2 separate regions of the Homo sapiens genome follow, and region 2 is linked to region 1. The links come from fine-mapping of genetic effects on gene expression. A gene starts in region 1. The other region holds a variant in brackets. All regions are shown on one strand. Distances are between the middles of the regions.

Evidence for each region.
Region 2: its variant is fine-mapped to the expression of VWCE in whole blood (INTERVAL, PIP 0.97).

The regions. Positions count from the first base shown.
Region 1 is chr11:61,288,133-61,299,832 of GRCh38, reverse strand. VWCE (von Willebrand factor C and EGF domains) reads left to right here and starts at 4,517. Exons shown (of 20, transcript NM_152718.2): 1 at 4,517-4,905; 2 at 8,257-8,351; 3 at 8,480-8,569; 4 at 8,906-9,034. The coding sequence starts at 4,796. DDB1 (damage specific DNA binding protein 1) reads left to right here. Exons shown (of 27, transcript NM_001923.5): 27 at 1-382. RefSeq lists silencers at 4,438-4,507, 4,688-4,997, 5,438-5,697 and an enhancer at 4,764-5,466.
Region 2 is chr11:61,312,516-61,320,515 of GRCh38, reverse strand. It overlaps DDB1 (damage specific DNA binding protein 1), which reads left to right. Exons shown (of 27, transcript NM_001923.5): 11 at 3,949-4,024; 12 at 4,123-4,231; 13 at 6,030-6,208; 14 at 6,306-6,469; 15 at 6,547-6,654; 16 at 6,810-7,017. Among named protein-coding and RNA genes, the nearest start is that of DDB1, 17 kb to the left of the region's middle. The variant G/A (reference allele first, on the strand shown) is at 4,516.

The sequences.
Region 1 (11,700 bases):
TTTGGCTGAAAGGAAGCTGTGCGTGTGTGTGTGTGTATGTGTGTGTGTGTATGTGTATCTCACACTCATGCATTGTCCTCTTTTTATTTAGATTGGCAGTGTAGGGAGTTGTGGGTAGTGGGGAAGAGGGTTAGGAGGGTTTCATTGTCTGTGAAGTGAGACCTTCCTTTTACTTTTCTTCTATTGCCTCTGAGAGCATCAGGCCTAGAGGCCTGACTGCCAAGCCATGGGTAGCCTGGGTGTAAAACCTGGAGATGGTGGATGATCCCCACGCCACAGCCCTTTTGTCTCTGCAAACTGCCTTCTTCGGAAAGAAGAAGGTGGGAGGATGTGAATTGTTAGTTTCTGAGTTTTACCAAATAAAGTAGAATATAAGAAGAAAGGTACATTTGTTTTTGCTTTTATTCACCCTGCCCAGCTATCCAGGACTCCAGGTTAACTATTCTTAATTTACTGCGAACTTAGGCAGTATCCTCCCTTTTATGGCAGTTGTTGCATTCACTTGCCCTTGCTGTTAGAACAGCTCTTTTCAAGTAGTGAAAGTGAAGACATCTATACCTCTTCTTCATCACGTGATTGTTTGATGGGATCCCAAGGATGATGGGCTTAGAAATTCACTGGTCTTTTTGGTTGTCCTTGACACCATTTGATTCTTACTTGCCTCTGTCGGTAACCTGCTGGGCCTGGGGGTTGCCTGGACTGCCTTTCCTGGTTTTATAGCCAGCTCTGTGTGCAGTGTCCAGTCATCTAGCCCCCAGGCCACCTAGTAGCTCCTCATGTACCTCCCAGCTGCTTGTTGCCACATGCCCTTTGGACCCTCATTTTGTTTCCTCTGATCTAATCAAGTGAACCTTTGGTGCTTTTGGTTTGAGAATACAGCAGGAGTAGGGCACATATGGGATTCACTCTTCTGTCTGGCAAACAAAGCCTGTCTTCTTTTCAGCTTGGTGGGCCAATGTCTGGGACCACGTTTCTCTCAGTGATCCGGTGGGAAGAAAGGCTGCTCTGTCCCCACGGTGGAGTAGGGTTGATACTAGGCATATTGGTGGCTCCTTTAAGACCAGCCTTTGATACAGTGTCAGGAAAATTGTGGTTGCAAGTTCAAATTGTGGTTTTGAGAGATTCTAGCTTAAAAAGAAAAGAGCTAAGAAGCATCCCTGGTTTGAGGGTCTTCTGGAGGAAGTTTCCTTCCCTGAAGGAATTCCTTGTGTTTTATTACCTTTTTTTCCCCTTACTCTTCTGAGAGTTCTGCGGGTGGGGGATAAGGGTCTTAACAAAAAATAATCAGCCTCTCAAAAACCACAGGTTGAACTGGAAACCCAACACTGTGATTTGAATTCTAGAAGTCATAGTTTGAATTTGAAAGGGCCTGCCCCCCTGCCAGAGGCCAGCTTTAATGAGGCAGGCAAGCAACAGTCTCCACATTGTGATTATTTTAAAAATTTAATCCTAGATGGGAGCGCTGACTATAAGGTGTCATAATCAGAAAGACAGAATGTGGTGGGATGATCATTCTGGGGCACTTTTGTGGTCTGACCTGCAGCTGCTGAGACCTGCTATTGAGAAGAAGGTTGTCAATGACTTGTCTTGAATTTGGAAGCCTGTGGAGTCCTTGCTATGTTTTGCTGATTTTTTGTTTTGTACACTCTTGGGTGTATTCACTCGGGATTGAATTCCAACTTTGGAAACTGATGTTCTGCTGCCATACTCCCACATCCCCTCTTAAACACCATTAATCACCTCTCTAGGGGTGAAAGGTTGTCTTTGGAGCGTGGCTGTAGCCAACTGGAACAGCTCCATTCCATGTAGGCGCTGATGAACTAGCATCACTCCAGGCCTCTGCACGAAGGGACCTTTGGGAGAATAATAGAAACACTGACTCATCACATGACCATTTGAAGGGATCACAAGCCAGAGGCTGTCATTCTGCAGCCAACAACAACTTGGATCCTCCACCCTCGGTGGAGGGTCCCTTTTGTTACTGAGAAACCACAAGCCACAGAAGTGGGAAGAAACACAGGAACTGCAATCAAGGGATATGCCCGAACTAGTCTTGAACAATAGTAAGTTAGAGACTCTGTGTCCAAACTGAGAAACCTCAGGGTCAAACAAAAAGACAAGAAAAACAAAAACCAAACTAAAGGGGAAAATGTTGATAGGAGCAAGGTGAATGCCATAAGGTCACAGAAACTTTATGGGGAAATGAAAGAAATGCCAGGGGCAGTTTGGACGTTGTTTGGAGATTCACTAACAGGAATTTACTGTGTACTAAGTATCCTAAATTCCTTAGGGTAGATGTGGGTTTTCTTCAAGCACAAAGTTGCATCTCAGCTATTCCAGCTGCTCATTGGCCAATATGGAGCAAACTCTGCCAGGGAGTGAGTTTTACAGGGTGAGGTGGAGCAGGTGGGGCTCCATAATGTAGCTAAGAACAGAGGTAGCTGAGGTGTGCTGGAGTGTGAGAAGATGGCATGAAATATGGAAGCCATGTGGACACTTGTTCTGTGTATGCCTGTTGAAAATTTGGGTAGCTCCCCTAGGGCCAGGAAAAAAGAGCACCTATTTGACATTGGTGGTTTAGGGGCAGTGGAGGGGGAAAGTGTAACCTTCAGATGTTTGGGGCAAGAGAGAAAGATGCCTTAGGATTCCGAGGGTCCTTGGGACTCAGAATGGATATGACGGAAATTGCATTCATCTTATGTTACAGAATATTTTGGCTCCTACTTGTTGAGAATATGTTGACAAGAAAATGGGCCAAAACAAACAAGGTGAGATACGGCCTCAAGGTGAATGTCTGCAAAAATGTAGCCACAAGCCGGGTGCGGTGGCTCACGCCTGTAATCCCAGCACTTTGGGAGGCTGACGTGGGTGGATCATTTGAGGTCAGGAGTTCAAGACCAGCCTGGTCAACATGGTGAAACCCCGTCCCTACTAAAAATACAAAAATTACCTGGGCATGGTGATGTGCGCCTGTAGTCCCAGCTACTCGGGAGGCTGAGGAAGGGGAATTGCTTGAACCCGGGAGATGGAGGTTGCAGTGAGCCGAAATCGTGCCACTGCATTCCAGCCTGGGCGACAGAGAAAGACTCCATCTAAAAAAAAAAAAAAAAAAATGGGGCCACACAGCTTCAGGTAGGGAGACCACTTGGCAGCTTGTGTTTAAATAACATAAAAGCACAACAAAAAATGCCTGCTTTTTTTCGTTCTTTTTTTTTTTTGAGATGGAGCCTTGCTCTGTCGCCCAGGCTGGAGTGCAATGGTGCAATCTTGGCTCACTGCAACCTCTGCCTCCTGGGTTCAAGTGATTCTCCTGCCTCAACCTGAGTAGCTGGGAATACAGGCGCCCGCCACCATGCCCAGCTAATTTTTGTATTTTTAGTAGAGATGGGGCGTCACCATATTGGCTAGGCTGGTTCTGGAACTCCTGACCTCAGGTGATCCGCCCACCTCAGCCTCCCAAAGTGCTGGGATTACAGGTGTGAGCCACCGCGCCCGGCCACCTGTGGTTTTTCTTTACTGCAAACTCAATGTGTCATAATTAACATCATGGGGTTGCCAAAAACGTAATATTAGGGTGCATTAGTAAAAGTATGGTGTCTGCAGGAAGGAGGCACGAGTCCAGGCCACCGCTGGTACGCCATGTCCATTTGTGGCCACCAATGTTAAGCACCTCAGTAAAGGCAGAGGTAGCAGGAAGGCCAAAGGAACAGGGATTGTTCAACTGGGAAGTGAAGACACTTTAAAACAAATGTGGTTCAAAACTGGATTGGGCCGCTTCTTAACAGATAGTGAGTTTCTTACCCCTGGAAGTATTTAAGCAAAATCTTGACTAATTGTGGGTGGCTAAGGGAAAGATTACTGCATGGAGCAGAAGGTAAAATCAGTTATCCTTTCAGCTTTCTCCCAGCGGGATGATTTTGATTTCCGCACCCCTTCTTTGCCTAAATCCCTAGGCAGCCCCCCAGTCTCTGACCACGGCCTGGGGCAGCTGCAGAAGGGGCAAAGAGGAGCCTTCCAGATCTGCTGCTGCCTCTCCACTGCCAACGGCGCCAGCTGCTTCCTGGTCTTGCCACCAGCAGTCGGGAGGCCGGCCATCTGCCCCCTGGGTGCCCAGAGGAGCCCGGGGCTTCAAAAGTGGCTAGGGCCCCAGGCCAGGGAGCGGTTGGACCCACAGATCAACGCACTCCGGCGTTAGGGTGCAGACCTTCTGGCAGGCTGGGGGCAGGCCTAGAACTGCTCAGCGGCACAGCGACCTGGCGTCGTGGGTTCGAATTTCCACGGTTCCCACCTCGTCACAACAAGGCGTCTCGGGTCCCACCGACAGGGGCCATGCCCGGGGCGCGCAGCCTCTGGTGCTAGCCTTGTTCCCGAAGTCTGTTTCCTCCCGGGGCCTCGGTCTGACGCCTTCAGTCAGCGCTTCGCAGGAAGCCGACTCCCAAACCGGGGCAGGGGGTGTGGGCCGAGGGCGAAACCCCGCCCCCAGGGGTCCCTGATCTTTGCCCCCGCCCCGGGCTCCGCGCCTCTCGGAGAGGCATCAGCAGGCGGGCGGCGTTGCCTTTGTGTGTTTCGCTTCGAGGTGCCAGAGACCCTCCCCACAATCGTCCGCCGCGTCCCCTCGCGGCCCTCGGCCCCTCCTCTCGGCGTCCCAAGCCCCCCTGCTCAGCTCTGCGTGCCATTTCGGGGATCGCTGGTTCGCTCCCCACGGCGCCAGGAGGAGGGGCGAGGGCCGGCAGCCCCCTCTCCCGCGCGCGGCGCAGGAGCCGAGCCCAGCCCGGGGGACCCGCCGCCGCCGGTCATGTGGGCCGGACTGCTCCTTCGGGCCGCCTGTGTCGCGCTCCTGCTGCCGGGGGCACCAGCCCGAGGCTACACCGGGAGGAAGCCGCCCGGGCACTTCGCGGCCGAGAGGTAAGCGCCCGGAGCTCCTCCCCGCTCCCCCGCCCGGGAGAGCGCTACCGGCGTGCAGTCGAGAGGCGCGGAGGGGCGCTCAGGAGCCGCAGGCAGCCGCGTGTCGGGGCTTCCTCTGGGGTGCTATCAGCGCGGGCACAGCTCGGGGACGGCACAAAGAGTCAGCAACTTGTGCCTCTAGGCGGGTGCTCATCGTGCCCCCCTGGCTGGGGCTGTCCAGACTGGGACCTGGGAGATCGGAGGTCCAGGCGTTGGGTGACTCCTAATGTGCCCTGGAGCGCGGACCTCTGGAGAGGGGAGCCCAGGACGTGCCATCTGGTCTCCGGACTGGCTGGCTCACCCCCCAGCGTGCCCGTGGCTCTGCCCGGGCAGCGCCTGGCCTCCCCTGCCGCGCGGGGCTTTCCCTGGGTCTTGGCCCTACGAACTTCATGGACCTTGGAACAGCCGGGGTCTCTGGGTCACTTTTCGTTTTCTGTCCGTGCGTGTGCGCGCGTGGGGGTGGGGTGCATGCCCCTCCGCTGTCTTTCGCGATGGATGCCGCCCTCCGCACGTGCTTTCCCCCGGGCCGCGGTGGGGCCGTGCGCGTGTGTGCGTGATGCTCGGAGCTAGGGAACACTGTGTCAGCAGGCGGCCTGGCCCGCGGCCACGTCCTCCGGGGGGCGCGCAGCGGGGGCGGCCCGGCCAGGCTTGTAGCTCACACGTGTGTTCCACAGCCACCGCCAGTTCCTGCTCAGAACCTGCCCCGACTCCCCGGCGTTCCACAGGCTCCCACCACCTGTCCCTCTGTCACCAGCCCTAGGAGGCTCCTTAGGGCGCTCTGGCGGGTGCTCGGTCCCTGCCCACCTGAGAGTTCGACTCCATCAGCCTCCCTGGGCACCCTTTTATCTGCCGCCTTGGTGGCACTGCCTGTCCGTTTCTGAGAGTCCCAAGGCTCCGCTCATTCGCCCGGTCCCCTCCTTCTCAGGCTGCTGCCATAATCACTCCAGCAAGGGGGTGGATGAGACTTCACTGCCAGCTCCCGCCAGCAGGAGGGCCCCCCCTTTCTTCTGTGATGACCTCAGAGAGGGAAAAAGGCCCCAGGGACAGCTTTCCTCAGACTTTTGTGTGCTGCCATTGCACCCTGAGCTTCCCTTTCCGGAATACTTGTCACATTTTGGCACAGATTTTTCTCCCCAAGAACACGCTAAGTTTGCCTTGTCCCATGTCCCCAGTGCCCAGCGCAGAGTGGGTGCTTTACAAAGTGCCTGCCTCGCAGAATCATCTTCCCTCCGCTCTGAACATTGGTGGAACACCATTGGGAAGGGGTTTCTTGTCCCTTTTCTGTTGCGGTGGGGTTGGAAGCTCAAACCAGGCTGGATTTCATCACCCTCTGTCCAGTCCATGACTGGAGCTGGTTGCAGTTGTCCTCTCTGTCCCCCTCCAGGCCTGCAGTTGTGCTGTTTCCCCTGCTAGAACACCCTCTCCCTTCCTCTTCTTTTGCTGGCTGCCCTACTTTTTTTTTTTTTTTTTTTGAGACAGAATCTTATTCTGTCACCCAGGCTGGAGTGCAGTGGTGCGATCTCGGCTCACTGCAGCCTCTGCCTTCTGGGTTCAAGCGATTCTCATGCCTCAGCCTCTCGAGCAGCTGGGACAACAGGCACATGCCACCACACCTGGCTAATTTTTTTTTTTTTTTTTTTTTTTTTTGAGATGGAGTTTTGCTCTTGTTGCCCAGGCTGGAGTGCAGTGGCGTGATCTCAGCTCACCGCAACCTCCGCCTCCCAGGTTCAAGCAATTCTCCTACCTCACCCTCCCAAGTAGCTGGGATTACAGGCATGCGCCACCATGCCCGGCTAATTTTGCATTTTTAGTAGAGTCGGGGTTTCTCCATGTTGGTCAGGCTGGTCTCAAACTCCTGACCTCGGGTGATCCGCCCGCCTTGGCCTCCCAAAGTGCTGGGATTACAAGCGTGAGCCACCGCGCCCGGCCTGTATTTTTTTTTTAGTGGAGACAGGGTTTTGCCATGTTGGCCAGGCTGGTCTCAAACTCCTGACCTCAAGTTATCTGCCTGCCTTGGCCTCCCAAAGTTTTCTCTCTCACCTCAGCCTAGATGCTGCCCTTCCAGGAACCCCCCCTGACCCTCCTCAGGGCTCCACAGTCTGTCCCACTGTGGCATTTGTCACTCTATGCTGTTATCACCTAGCTCCTGGTCTGCCCTACTTTCCTTGAAGGTGGGGGCAGTAGTTTGTTTATGGCTGTATGGTCACGCCTTACTCAGCACCCAGCACCAGTTGGATGCATCTGGCTTCCTGCCCTTTCTGGACCTCATTCCTGCTTGAACAGACCCCTACTGCCTCCAGTTTTGGGCAGCTCATTCATGACCCCACACCCACCCAAGAGATGTCACCTATGCCATTGCCCTTCTCAACCTTTCCCTCAACAGCCATTTATTGAGCACCTACTACATGCCAGGCACTCCTGTACGTGCTGGGGTAAATAGATAAGAAACCCTTGTCATCAGGGAGTTGTAGGGGAGACAATGAATTAATAAATTAAAATCTAATGTCACAGGAAGTAAATGTTGTGGAGAATAAAGCAAGGTAAGGGTGGACAAGGAAGGCCTCTCTGAGAAGGTGCCATGGGCAGAGATCTGGGTGAAGGGAGAGAGGAAGCCCAGTGTGTGTCTGAGGAAGAATCTTTCTCTCTCTCTTTTTTTTTTTTTTGTTTTGAGACGGTCTGGCTCTGTCACTTAGGCTGAAGGGCAGTGGCGCCAACTTGGCTCGCTGCAACCTCTGCCTCACAGGCTCAAGCCATTCTCCCACCTCAGCCTCCCGAGTAGCTGACCCTACAGGTGTGTGTCACCATGCCCAGCTAGTTTTTGTGTTTTTAGTAGAAACGAGGTTTCACCATGTTGCCCAGGCTGGTCTCAAACTCCTGGGCTCAAAATGATCAGCCTGCTTCGGCTTCCCAAAGTGCTGGGATTACAGGCGTGAGCCACCACACCCAGCCATAAGAACCTTTCTTATAGCAGGAACTGCAAGTGCAAAGGTCCTGAGGCAGCCACCCCTGGGGCTCCTCATCTATTGCACAGCCTTTCTTCAACTCTGAGGCCCCTCTCCTGGCCACTCTGCTGTGTGTTCACGTGGCAGATATCTGTAGGAGGCCAGTATCTATTGTCTCACACTTTTGTCTCTGTCTTGCCTCCAGGAGAAGACTGTTTGGGTCATTTTTCTTTGGAAACTTCCCATTGCCCCTCCAGACAGTTCTTGAGAATTGTTTGTTGATTCACTTACACACTGGCTGGGAGACTTTCCTGTTGACCAATGTCTCCCCCAGTATAGAATGAGGAAAGTGCTCTCTCTTCTCTTGCAGACGCCGACTGGGCCCCCACGTCTGCCTCTCTGGGTTTGGGAGTGGCTGCTGCCCTGGCTGGGCGCCCTCTATGGGTGGTGGGCACTGCACCCTGCGTAAGTGCTTGTCCCTGTGCCCCAAGTCTTCTCCTCCAGCAGTGTGTGTTGCCAGCCCTCAGTCCCTGGTCCGAGGGGCAGACGGGAGGCCCCAGTTCCTCGTGTCTCACCTGCACTTCTCCTCTCAGCCCTCTGCTCCTTCGGCTGTGGGAGTGGCATCTGCATCGCTCCCAATGTCTGCTCCTGCCAGGATGGAGAGCAAGGGGCCACCTGCCCAGGTAACTGGGGATGGGAAGGGGCTGATGGGAACAGATGAATGAGCATTGAGGTTATGTCCTGGGCAGTGGGCACTTGAGATGTGTCCTGGTGTCTCAGCTTCAGACAACTCCATTAGGTAGACATTTTGTGCCCATTTTATAGATGAAGAAACTGAGACACAGAAGTTATTGTCTTGCCCGGGGTCACACAGCTGGTAAATGGCAGAGCTGGATTTAAACCCAGGCCTGTTTGCCTTCAGAGCTACCCTCCCAACAGAATTCAGGAGGACCCTGGTGAAGTGGGGATGGTTGGGACTGCCACGGGGTGCATGCTCACTGGTGTGATGCCTGCTCTAGAAACCCATGGACCATGTGGGGAGTACGGCTGTGACCTTACCTGCAACCATGGAGGCTGTCAGGAGGTGGCCCGAGTGTGCCCCGTGGGCTTCTCGATGACGGAGACAGCTGTTGGCATCAGGTGTACAGGTGAGACGCCTGGGAGTGGTGGGGGAGGGGGAGGGGGACAGCGGGAATTATATCTCCTCCCCCTCCTGCCAGGATGGTCTCCAGTGTATTGCAAGGCTAAGCTGAGCCAAGATAGGCTCTGATGTTTGAGAGTGGGCAGAGAGACATGAGAACAAAAGAAATGTGTCACTTCTGTTATTTTACAATTATTTATTGAGCACTTCTTAGGGGCAGGAACTGAGCTAGGGACTGGGGTTATGGGAGCCACAGTTGGTCCCTGTTAGGGAGTTTTTTTTTTTTTTTTTTTTGAGACGAAGTTTCACTCTTTTGCCCAGGCTGGAGTGAAGTAGCATGGTCTCAGCTCACTGCAGCCTCCACCTCCTGGGTTCAAATGATTCTCCTGCCTCAGCCTCCTCAGTAGCTGGGATTACAGGCGGGTGCCACCACACCCAGCTAATTTTTGTATTTTTAGTAGAGACAGGGTTTTGCCATGTTGGCCAGGGTGGTCTCGAACTCCTGACCTCAGGTGATCCACCCACCTCGGACTCCCAAAGTGTTAGGATTACAGGCGTGAGCCACCGCACCCAGCCCCATTAGGGAGTTTCTGAATATGAGGAAGGAAGACAAGTAACAGGACAAGAACAGCTCCATTGTCATGGGGACCTTCACTGGGAAGGGCAAGGTGCCAGGGCCCACAGAGGGGCATGGAACCCAGAGTTGGGAGGGTTGGCCAGGGGAGGCTCCTTGGGAAAATGACATTTAAAAGATGAGGGACGCTAAACTCAATAATTAGTTTGTGAATGTATTATTTGCTTGTGATTTTTAAAACATTTCTACGGACAAAATCTGTTACCTTCCCCAGAAACAGTCACTGTGACCAGTTTCTTGTCAATCTTTCCAGAGCGACAAAAGCCTTTTTGGAGTTTTAACTTCGTAAAAGTAATATTTCTCCCCCTGAATAGAAAAGCAAGAGATAGTTCATTGTAGAACATTTGGAAAGTAAGAGGAGAAAGATGAAAATAAGCATTCTCTGGAAGTCCCCACCCGGAGATATTTGTTACTAAAATGAAGTTTTTTTTCCTGCCCTTTTCCCTGGGTGTGTCTGTGTTTGTGAGTGTGTGTATGTGTGTGTATGTATGTTAAGCATGCAGCATATATGTATGCTTTATAAAACTGGGATTATATCTTATCTGTAGCTTTTATTATTTTTCCCATCTAACTTTATGTTGTAGGCATCACTAACAATTCCTTGCAACATAATTTTTTTTTTCGCTAGGCTTGGTGGCTCACGCCTGTAATCCCAGCACTTTGGGAGGCCGAGGCGGGTGGATCACTTGAGGTCAGGAGTTCAAGACCAGCCTGGCCAACATGGTGAAACCCTGTCTCTACTAAAAACACAAAAACTAGCTGGTGTAGTGGTACATGCCTGTAATCCCGGCTACTCAGGAGGCCGAGGCAGGAGAATTGCATGAACCCAGCAGGTGGAGGTTGCAGTGAGCCGAGATCACACCACTGCACTCCAGCCTAGCGACAGAGCAAGACTGTCTCAAAAAAACAAAAAGAAAAAAAATTTTTTTTTAGCAGTTACATATGTGGTTGCTGTAATTGAAATAACTATTTGTCTGTTGTCCCTTATTTAAGAGGTTTGCAGTGTTTCACCAGTATAAATAATGCTGCCATAGGGCCGGGCACGGTGGCTCACCGCTGTAATCTCAGTACTTTGGGAGGCCGAGGTGGGTGGATCACGAGGTCAGGGGTTCGAGACCAGCCATGACCAACATGGTGAAACCCCGTCTCTACTAAAAATACAAAAATTAGGTGGGTGTGGTGGCGGGTGCCTGTAATCCCAGCTACTCAGGAGGCTGAGGCAGAAGAATTGCTTGAACCCGGGAGGCGGAGGTTGCAGTGAGCCAAGTTCGCGCCACTGCACTCCAGCCTGAGTGACAGAGCGAGATTCCGTCTCAAAAAAAAAAAAAAAAACGCGCCATAAAGAGGCTTCCTGTCAGCTTCTCTGATTATTTCCCAGAAGGACGCTGTTGGGTCCAAGGGTCTCAATAAAGGGGTCTTGGAGCTCATTGCTTGTTGCAGCATCTCCTCCAGATAGGAAAACCAATGGAAGCAATTGATCTGCTCCTGAATGCCTTTCACCTTGGGACATTTTCTGCACGTATTTCTCATTGCAGAGGCAAACGGAACCAAGGAAAAGCCAGAGAACAATGTCAAAGCACTTGCAGGACAGGGTGGCACTGACTGTAGCCACGAGACATCCCAGTGGAATGGGGTTAGTCAGAGTGGGCTTCTTAGCGGTGTTGAGCATGGTCTTGACGGTCCAGCTGTTGGGAAGAGTGGGTAGCTGCTGGGTAGAAGGCTAAGTAGGGGATAAGGAGAGTGGGGGTGTCCCATGGGCTTGGGGGCCACAGTGGCGAGGCTCACTACACAGTGAGTGCAGATTGAGTAGACTGAGCTGAGCCCGTAGGTCCTCAGAAGCTGCTGCGGATCTTTGGCAGGGAAGGGATGGCATGAAGCATGATTTGGGGAAATCTGTCTCCCAGCTCCTATCATCCCTCAGATCAGAACATCTCACTAGGCTCACCTTCGTAAAGTACTACTTGGATTTAGTCACTGCAACTTAGTCTCATCTTTTTTTTTTTTTTTTTTTTTTTTGAGACAGAGTCTCACTCTGTTGC
Region 2 (8,000 bases), 23 kb before region 1:
AAGAAATAGAAGTATGGCCAGGCATGTTGCCTGACACCTGTAATCCCAGCACTTTGGGAGGCTGAGGTGGGTGGATTACCTGAGGCCAGGAGTTCGAGACCAGCCTGGCCAACATGGTGAAACCCTGTCTCTACTAAAAATACAAAAAATTAGCCAGGCATGGTGTGGGTGCCTGTAATCCCAGCTACTCGGGAGGCTGAGACGGGAGAGGCACTTGAACCTGGGAGGCGGAGGTTGCAGTGAGCTGAGACTGCGCCACTGCACTACAGCCTGGGCCACATAGTGAGACTCCATCTCAAAAAAAAAAAGAAAAAAAGAAAAGAGAAGTATATGAAATTGCAAAGGAAGAGATCATATAACTACAAACCCAAGATAATCAACTAAAAAACTACTATAGACAATACAAATTCACTAAGATAGCAGGATGTAAAAGTAATGTACTGAAATTAATAGCTTTCATGTAAACACAGTCAATTAGAAAGCATAGTAGAGGAAAGGGGGCAATTTACCATAACAAGAAAATGATTAAGTACCAAGGAGTACATTTAACAAAATTGTGCAAAACCTATACAAGGAAAACTTAAAGATACTCCTGAAGGAGGAAAAGAACAAGTTGATCAAACGAAAAAGACACACCAAGTACTGCAAATCAGTATTATAAAGCTGTTCTCTCTTTATATTTAATGTACCTGAATATGTATACAATGTTTCCTTGACTTAGACAAGTCCAAATGGAAAAAGGAAGAAGCAGGCATAACCAGGAAAACTTTAAAAAGAGCAATGAGAGGCCGGGCGCAATGCCTCATGCCTGTAATCCCAGCACTTTGGGAGGCCGAGGCGGGCAGATCACAAGGTCAGGAGATCGAGATCATCCTGGCCAGCATGGTGAAACCCCATCTCTACTAAAATACAAAAAATTAGCCGGGGGTGGTGGCGCGTGCCTGTAGTCCCAGCTACTCGGGAGGCTGAGGCAGGGGAATCACTTGAACCCAGGAGGCGGAGGTTGCAGTGAGCCGAGATCGTGCCACTGCACTCCAGCCTGGCGTCACAGCAAGACTCCATCTCAAAAAAAAAAAGAAAAAAAAAGAAAGCAGTGAGACATGTTAGCCCTACCAGATACTGAAGCATACTGTTAAGCCTCTATAATTAGAAGTGTAGTATTGCTGATGAATAGGCAGAGTCTAATGGGCAGATTCAGAAGTCCAGAAATGACATAATTACATGTGGAAATTCAGTGTATGATAGTGGTGGCTTCTCAGTTCAGTGAGTAAAGTTGGGACTTTTTAAATTTTTATTTGTATTCATTTTTTGAGATAGGGTCTCACTCTGTCACCCAGGCTGGGGTACAGTGGCATGATCACGGCTTACCATAGCCTCAATATCCTGGGTTCAAGAGATCTTCTCTATGTCAGCCTCCCAGTAGCTGGGACTCCAACCATGCGCCACCACGCCTGGCTAATTTTGTTTGTGTTTGGTAGAGGTAGAGACAGGGTCTCCCTATGTTGCCCAGGCTGGTCTCAAACTCCTAGGCTCAAGCGGTCCTCCCGCCTTGGCCTTCTGAAGTGCTGTAATCACAGGCATGAGCCACTGAGCCTAGCCTAAAGTTGGGACCTAATAAATGGTGTTTTTGGGATAATTGATAGTCATTTGGGAAAAGACAAGTTTGGGTTCATACTGCCTGCCAAATGTACACTTGGCTAGAATCTAAATGGTTGAAAAACTTAATGTAAAAAAATGAAGCCATAACTATGACTCAAAGTACAGAAGCCAAAAAGAAAGATTGATAAATTCCAACTATATAAAAATAAAACACTTCATAGCAAAAGCAAAACAAAACACTATTAGGTAAGTCAGAAGAAATGACAAACCAGATAAAAATATTCTGTAGTTCATCTTATAGACAAAAGGCCCAGTCTTCCTAATTTATAACATATTTATAGAAAGATCACTAAATTTTCTGTCCCCAAACTAGCAAAGGACATGAATGGACAGGCAACAGTCCTGAGAAATGCACATTAACACCAAACAGCAGTACTCTACTAGATGACCAAAATCCAGAAGTTTGACCACACATTATGTTGGTCGGGCTGTGAGAAAATAAACATGCTTGTGCATCCTCTATAGAAGGGAATTGGGCAATATCAAAGACAGCAGTTAGCGATTTACTTAGTAGTCCCAGTTCTGAGCCTCTACCTGACCTTTATATGTATAAAGTGACATAAAAATACAAGCTTATTTCTTGTGGCATTGTATGTTATAGCAAAATACTGAATAAATATAATGAGAAGGGATTTGTTAATCTGCATAATTTAATAATTATAGATAAATGATTTACACAATTAAATACTGTGTTCTGATAAGGGCTTCAAGCATATATTGTTCAATGAAAGAACAAGGTGCCAAATAGTGCATGATAGACTATTTTATATTTGCATTTGTTTGTAATACTCTATTTCCTTAAAGTAAAAAAAATTAAGCTTAGTGTTGCATAGTGGGCCTGTAGTCCTTACTGTTCAGGAGGCTGAGGTGGGAGGATCACTTGAGCCCAGGAGATCGAGGCCAGACTGGAGCAACATAGCAAGATCCTCCCACACCCCATCTCTTTACCAGAAGGCTAAACAAGATGCCTTTATTGATTACTTGTTTGGGGGATGGGTTGGAGGGAGGTATGGGAATGAGACTTTTCTGTGTACTTTTAAAAAATAAATTTAGGCTGGGTACAGTGGCTCACACCTGTAATCCCAGTACTTTGGGAGACCGAGTGGGCAGATCATGAGGTCAGGAGATCGAGACCATCCTGGCTAACACGGTGAAATCCTGTCTCTACTAAAAATAGAAAAAATTAGCCAGGCGTGGTGACACGCACCTGTAGTCCCAGCTACTCAGGAGGCTGAGGCAGGAGAATCGCTTGAACCCGGGAGGCGGAGGTTGTAGTGAGCCGAGATCGTGCCATTGCACCCCAGTCTGGGTGACAGAGCAAGACTCCGTCTCAAATAAATAAGTAAATAAATAAATAAATAAATTTAGACTTTGGGTCATGGAAATGTATATCCAATCCCAAATTTAAAATAGGCTCAAAACAGCTTTAAAATTATCTAACTTTTGGCCCGGCGTGGTGGCTCACGCCTGTAATCCCAGCACTTTGGGAGGCCAAGGTGGCGGATCACGAGGTCAGGAGATCGAGACCATCCTGGCTAACATGGTGAAACCCTGTCTCTACTAAAAATACAAAAAATTAGCCAGGTGTGGTGGCGGGCACCTGCCTTCCCAGCTACTCGGGAGGCTGAGGCAGGAGAATGGTGTGAACCCGGGAGGTGGAGCTTGCAGTGAGCTGAGATCGGGCCACTGCACTCCAGCCTGGTGACAGAGCGAGACTCCGTCTCAAAAAAAACAAGCAAACAAACAAAACAAAACTATTTAACTTTTTAGAGCCTTAAAACCAAGAAGGAGCAGAGAGGGGGTTCCAGCTCAGGACTCCATGTTCCAGCCCTTCCAGTGGTGTCAGGCTGCCATGTCTATATATATATATATATATATATATATATATATATATATATATATATATATATCTATCCTTTTTTTTTTTTTTTTTTTTTGAGACAGGATCTTGCTGTGTCACCCAGGCTGGAGTGCAATGACATGATCATAGCTGCAGCCTCTTTCTCCTAATCTTAAGCAATCCCCCCACCTCAGCCTCCCATGTAGCTGGGACTATAGTTTTGTGCCACCACACCTAGCAAGTTCTTTTGTATTTTTAGCAGGGACAAGGTCTCTCCATTTTGCCCAGGCTGGTCTAGAACTCCTGGTTCCAAGCAGTCCTCCTGCCTCTGCCTTCCCAAGTGTTGAGATTATAGGCATGAGCCACTGCCCCTGGCCTGCCCTGTCCGTAGATATGCATGCTAAGTGTTGGTCTGTCCTATGCATCTGAATCCTTGGTCCTTGTTCCAGGATTATGGCCACTGCGGTCTGACCCTAATCGTGAGACTGATGACACTTTGGTGCTCTCTTTTGTGGGCCAGACAAGGTAAGGATGGGTCTAGTGCCAGCTGTAGGTGCTGGTGAGAAGGTTGTGAGGTGGGGAAGCTGGTCCCAGGCTGACCCAGGCCCTCCATTCTGCTGCAGAGTTCTCATGTTAAATGGAGAGGAGGTAGAAGAAACCGAACTGATGGGTTTCGTGGATGATCAGCAGACTTTCTTCTGTGGCAACGTGGCTCATCAGCAGCTTATCCAGGTGATAACTGAGAAAGGGGCAGGTGTTACCATATACTTGAATTGACCTAGATGCAGTACAGAGCACCACTGGATTTTAAAACAACCAATTTTTATGGCTCCAAAAATAATGTAAAAATTCTAGGGAAAAAATTACAGATAATCCACTACTCAGAGATCACAACTCTTAACCTTAGAGTTGCTCCTTTTAGCTTTATTTTTCTTCTGCAAATGTCTGTGTATTTATTTACATTTTCTTTTATAGACTCGGGTCATTATATATATAAACATAAAAATATAGTTTCG[G/A]ATCCTATTTTAGCACTAATTATATCTTCCGAGACACTCAAATTTTTTCCCTTTGTTAAACTAGTGATACATCCTTATTTATAAAATTAGAAAATGCCAAAATGCACAAAAAAAGAAAAAATCATGATGCTACCATCCAATATGACTCTTGGCAGCCCTTTCCACATACTAATTATAACCGAAGCTTACCCTATTCTGATCCTTACTTTCAATCTATCTGCAATACGGGGGCAGATAGCCTTCTGGCATATTGTTATCCACGAGAGCCTCATTTCTGACACCCTTCCACCCCTCAGCAATTTTTTGAAGTTTGGAGTGACCCTGACATCCTTCAGCTTTTAGCACTCTCTCCTTACCTTCTGAGCTGTTCTTCACTCTGTGGCCAGAGTCTGTCTTGCCTTTGGTGGGTAGGGCACTGGAGTGCCTAAGGATTAATGAACTGTCTCTGTCTTTTTATCCACCTGGTTTTCCTTTTAGCCACCTGGCAGTGGTAGATTGGTAAAACCGGAGGGAAAGTTCTGTCAGTTTGCAGACCAAGTGTGGGACGTGCCCAGATACTGAGTCATTGCTTTGTCAGTGTTATCTAACTATTGGCCTGAAGACTGGCACCAGCTCACCTATTTATTATTAAAGAGCTTTCATCCTTATATATAAACTCAATTGTGCTAGGTAAGATGAATGAATAGATAACAGTGTCACCAACCTACTTCCTGTTTTATTTCAGTGATAAATTTATACAATATATTTCTATACAATTTTGTAATCTTTACTAAGGAACTTTAAATAATTTAAATGGCTCATACACAGTAAAGAACTTAGATATTTTAGAGGTCTGATTTGGGGGTTGAGAAAAACTGCTAAGACTGGTGGTCACAGTCAACATGGTGGCTCACGCCTGTAATCCCAGCACTTTGGGAGGCCAAGGCAGGTGGATCATGAGGTCAGGAGTTCAAGATCAGCCTGGCCAACATGGTGAAACCCCATCTCTACTCAAAAAACAAAAGTTAACCAGGCATGGTGGCATGCGCCTGTAATCGCAGCTACTTGGGAGGCTGAGGCAGGAGAATGGCTTGAACCTGGGAGGCGTAGGTTGTGGTGAGCTGAGATTGCACCACTGCACTCCAGCCTGGGCAACAGAGAGAGACTCTGTCCCAAAAAAAAAAAAAAAAAAAAAAAAGCCAAAAAACTGGTGGTCACAGGGTCTTACTCTATTCATATCTTCCCACAGGATGCAGTTTGTATTACCCAAGTAAGTCTCAATTAGAATGAAATAGGCCTTTTCCCCACCAGCTGTAGGTTTGTAAGCTGTAAGCTACTTTTAAGCTGGCCTCCTTCAGGCATTCATGCAAAAATGACATCTATTGTAATCATTAGCAGGACTTTGGGGAATAAGAAATAGAAGCCTCATGTAGCTTATTCGTAGGGCTCTATTAGGGCTGCATTTACCACCTTTCCACTCCTGTGTGGACCCTGGCAGATGCTTGGAGACATTTGTTCATCTGCTGTTTATCTAGATCACTTCAGCATCGGTGAGGTTGGTCTCTCAAGAACCCAAAGCTCTGGTCAGTGAATGGAAGGAGCCTCAGGCCAAGAACATCAGTGTGGCCTCCTGCAATAGCAGCCAGGTGGTGGTGGCTGTAGGCAGGGCCCTCTACTATCTGCAGATCCATCCTCAGGAGCTCCGGCAGATCAGGTGTGTGTGTTTTTCTGTCTGCTCGCTTTCCTCCTCTTTTCTCTAGGACTTCTTTGAGCCTTGGATTCCTTCCTCTGCCATATTCTTCTTTGTTCAGCCACACAGAGATGGAACATGAAGTGGCTTGCTTGGACATCACCCCATTAGGAGACAGCAATGGACTGTCCCCTCTTTGTGCCATTGGCCTCTGGACGGACATCTCGGCTCGTATCTTGAAGTTGCCCTCTTTTGAACTACTGCACAAGGAGATGCTGGGTGGAGGTATGTGTCATTTAGGGACCTGGGTTGGGACAGAGTCAAAATGTGGAACAAGAACATAATGTCCCCCTTTCTCACAGAGATCATTCCTCGCTCCATCCTGATGACCACCTTTGAGAGTAGCCATTACCTCCTTTGTGCCTTGGGAGATGGAGCGCTTTTCTACTTTGGGCTCAACATTGAGACAGGTGAGAGTAGTATTTTGAGTGAGGGACTCTTTCAAAAATAGAGTATTAGAATTACACAGAATTCTTAGTCCCAGGGTTCTGCTTTTGAACTTTCACAGGCCAGCTTTTTGTCCTGTTTTCTTTCTTCCTTTCTCCTGATGTCATTCTCTCTGTAGGTCTGTTGAGCGACCGTAAGAAGGTGACTTTGGGCACCCAGCCCACCGTATTGAGGACTTTTCGTTCTCTTTCTACCACCAACGTCTTTGCTTGTTCTGACCGCCCCACTGTCATCTATAGCAGCAACCACAAATTGGTCTTCTCAAATGTCAACCTCAAGGAAGTGAACTACATGTGTCCCCTCAATTCAGATGGCTATCCTGACAGGTGAGTCTCTTTTTCCTTATTTAATGAGAGCTATTGATTGAGGGGGTCATGATGTTTTCCTCAAACCCTTACCTCAAAGCCTTTTTCCGGTGTCAAAATCATAACTGAGATGGGAAGTATAGTGCAGAGGTTCTCAAAACTGGCTACCCAATAGAAACACTTGGGAAGTTTTTTAAAACTACAGGATTTTTGGAATCCTCAGTGGGTCTGAGGTTGAGCTCTGGAATCTGTATTTTCAGAAAACTTATCAGGTGATTCAGATGACTGTTTCATAATCCCTAATTTAGAGATCATTTTGTGTCCCTCTAGAGCAGGAATTCTCAAAGGGTGTCCCCAACCAGCAGCTACAGCATTACTTGGGAACTTGTTAGAAATGCAGATTCTCTGGCTGGGCATGGTGGCTCACACCTGTAGTCCCGGCACTTTGGGAGGCCGAGGCAGGAGGATCATTTGAAGTCAGGAGTTTGAGACCAGCCTGGCCAACATGGTGAAACCTTGTCTCTAATAAAAATACAAAAATTAGCCAGGTATGGTGGTGTGTGCCTGTAATCCCAGCTACTTGGGAGGCTGAGGCAGGAGATTCCCTTGAAATTGGAAGGTTGCTGGGTGCAGTGGCTCATGCCTGTAATCCTAGCTCTTTGGGAGGCTGAGGTGGGTGGATCACCGGAGGTCAGGAGCTCGAGACCAGTCTGGCCGACATGGCGAAACCCCATCTCTACTAAAAATACAAAAGTTAGCCGGGTGTGGTGGCAGGCACCTGTAATCCCAGCTACTCAGGAGGCTGAGGCAGGAGAATCACTTGAACCCAGGAGGCAGAGTTTTCAGTGAGCCAAGATCCCACCATTGCGCTCCAGCCTGGTGACAAGAAAAAAAACTGTCTTAAAAAAAAAGAAACTGGGAGGTGGAGGTTGCAGTGAGCTTAGATTTCACCGCTGCACTCCAGCCTGAATAACAGAGCTGAGACTCTGTCTCAAAAAAAAAAA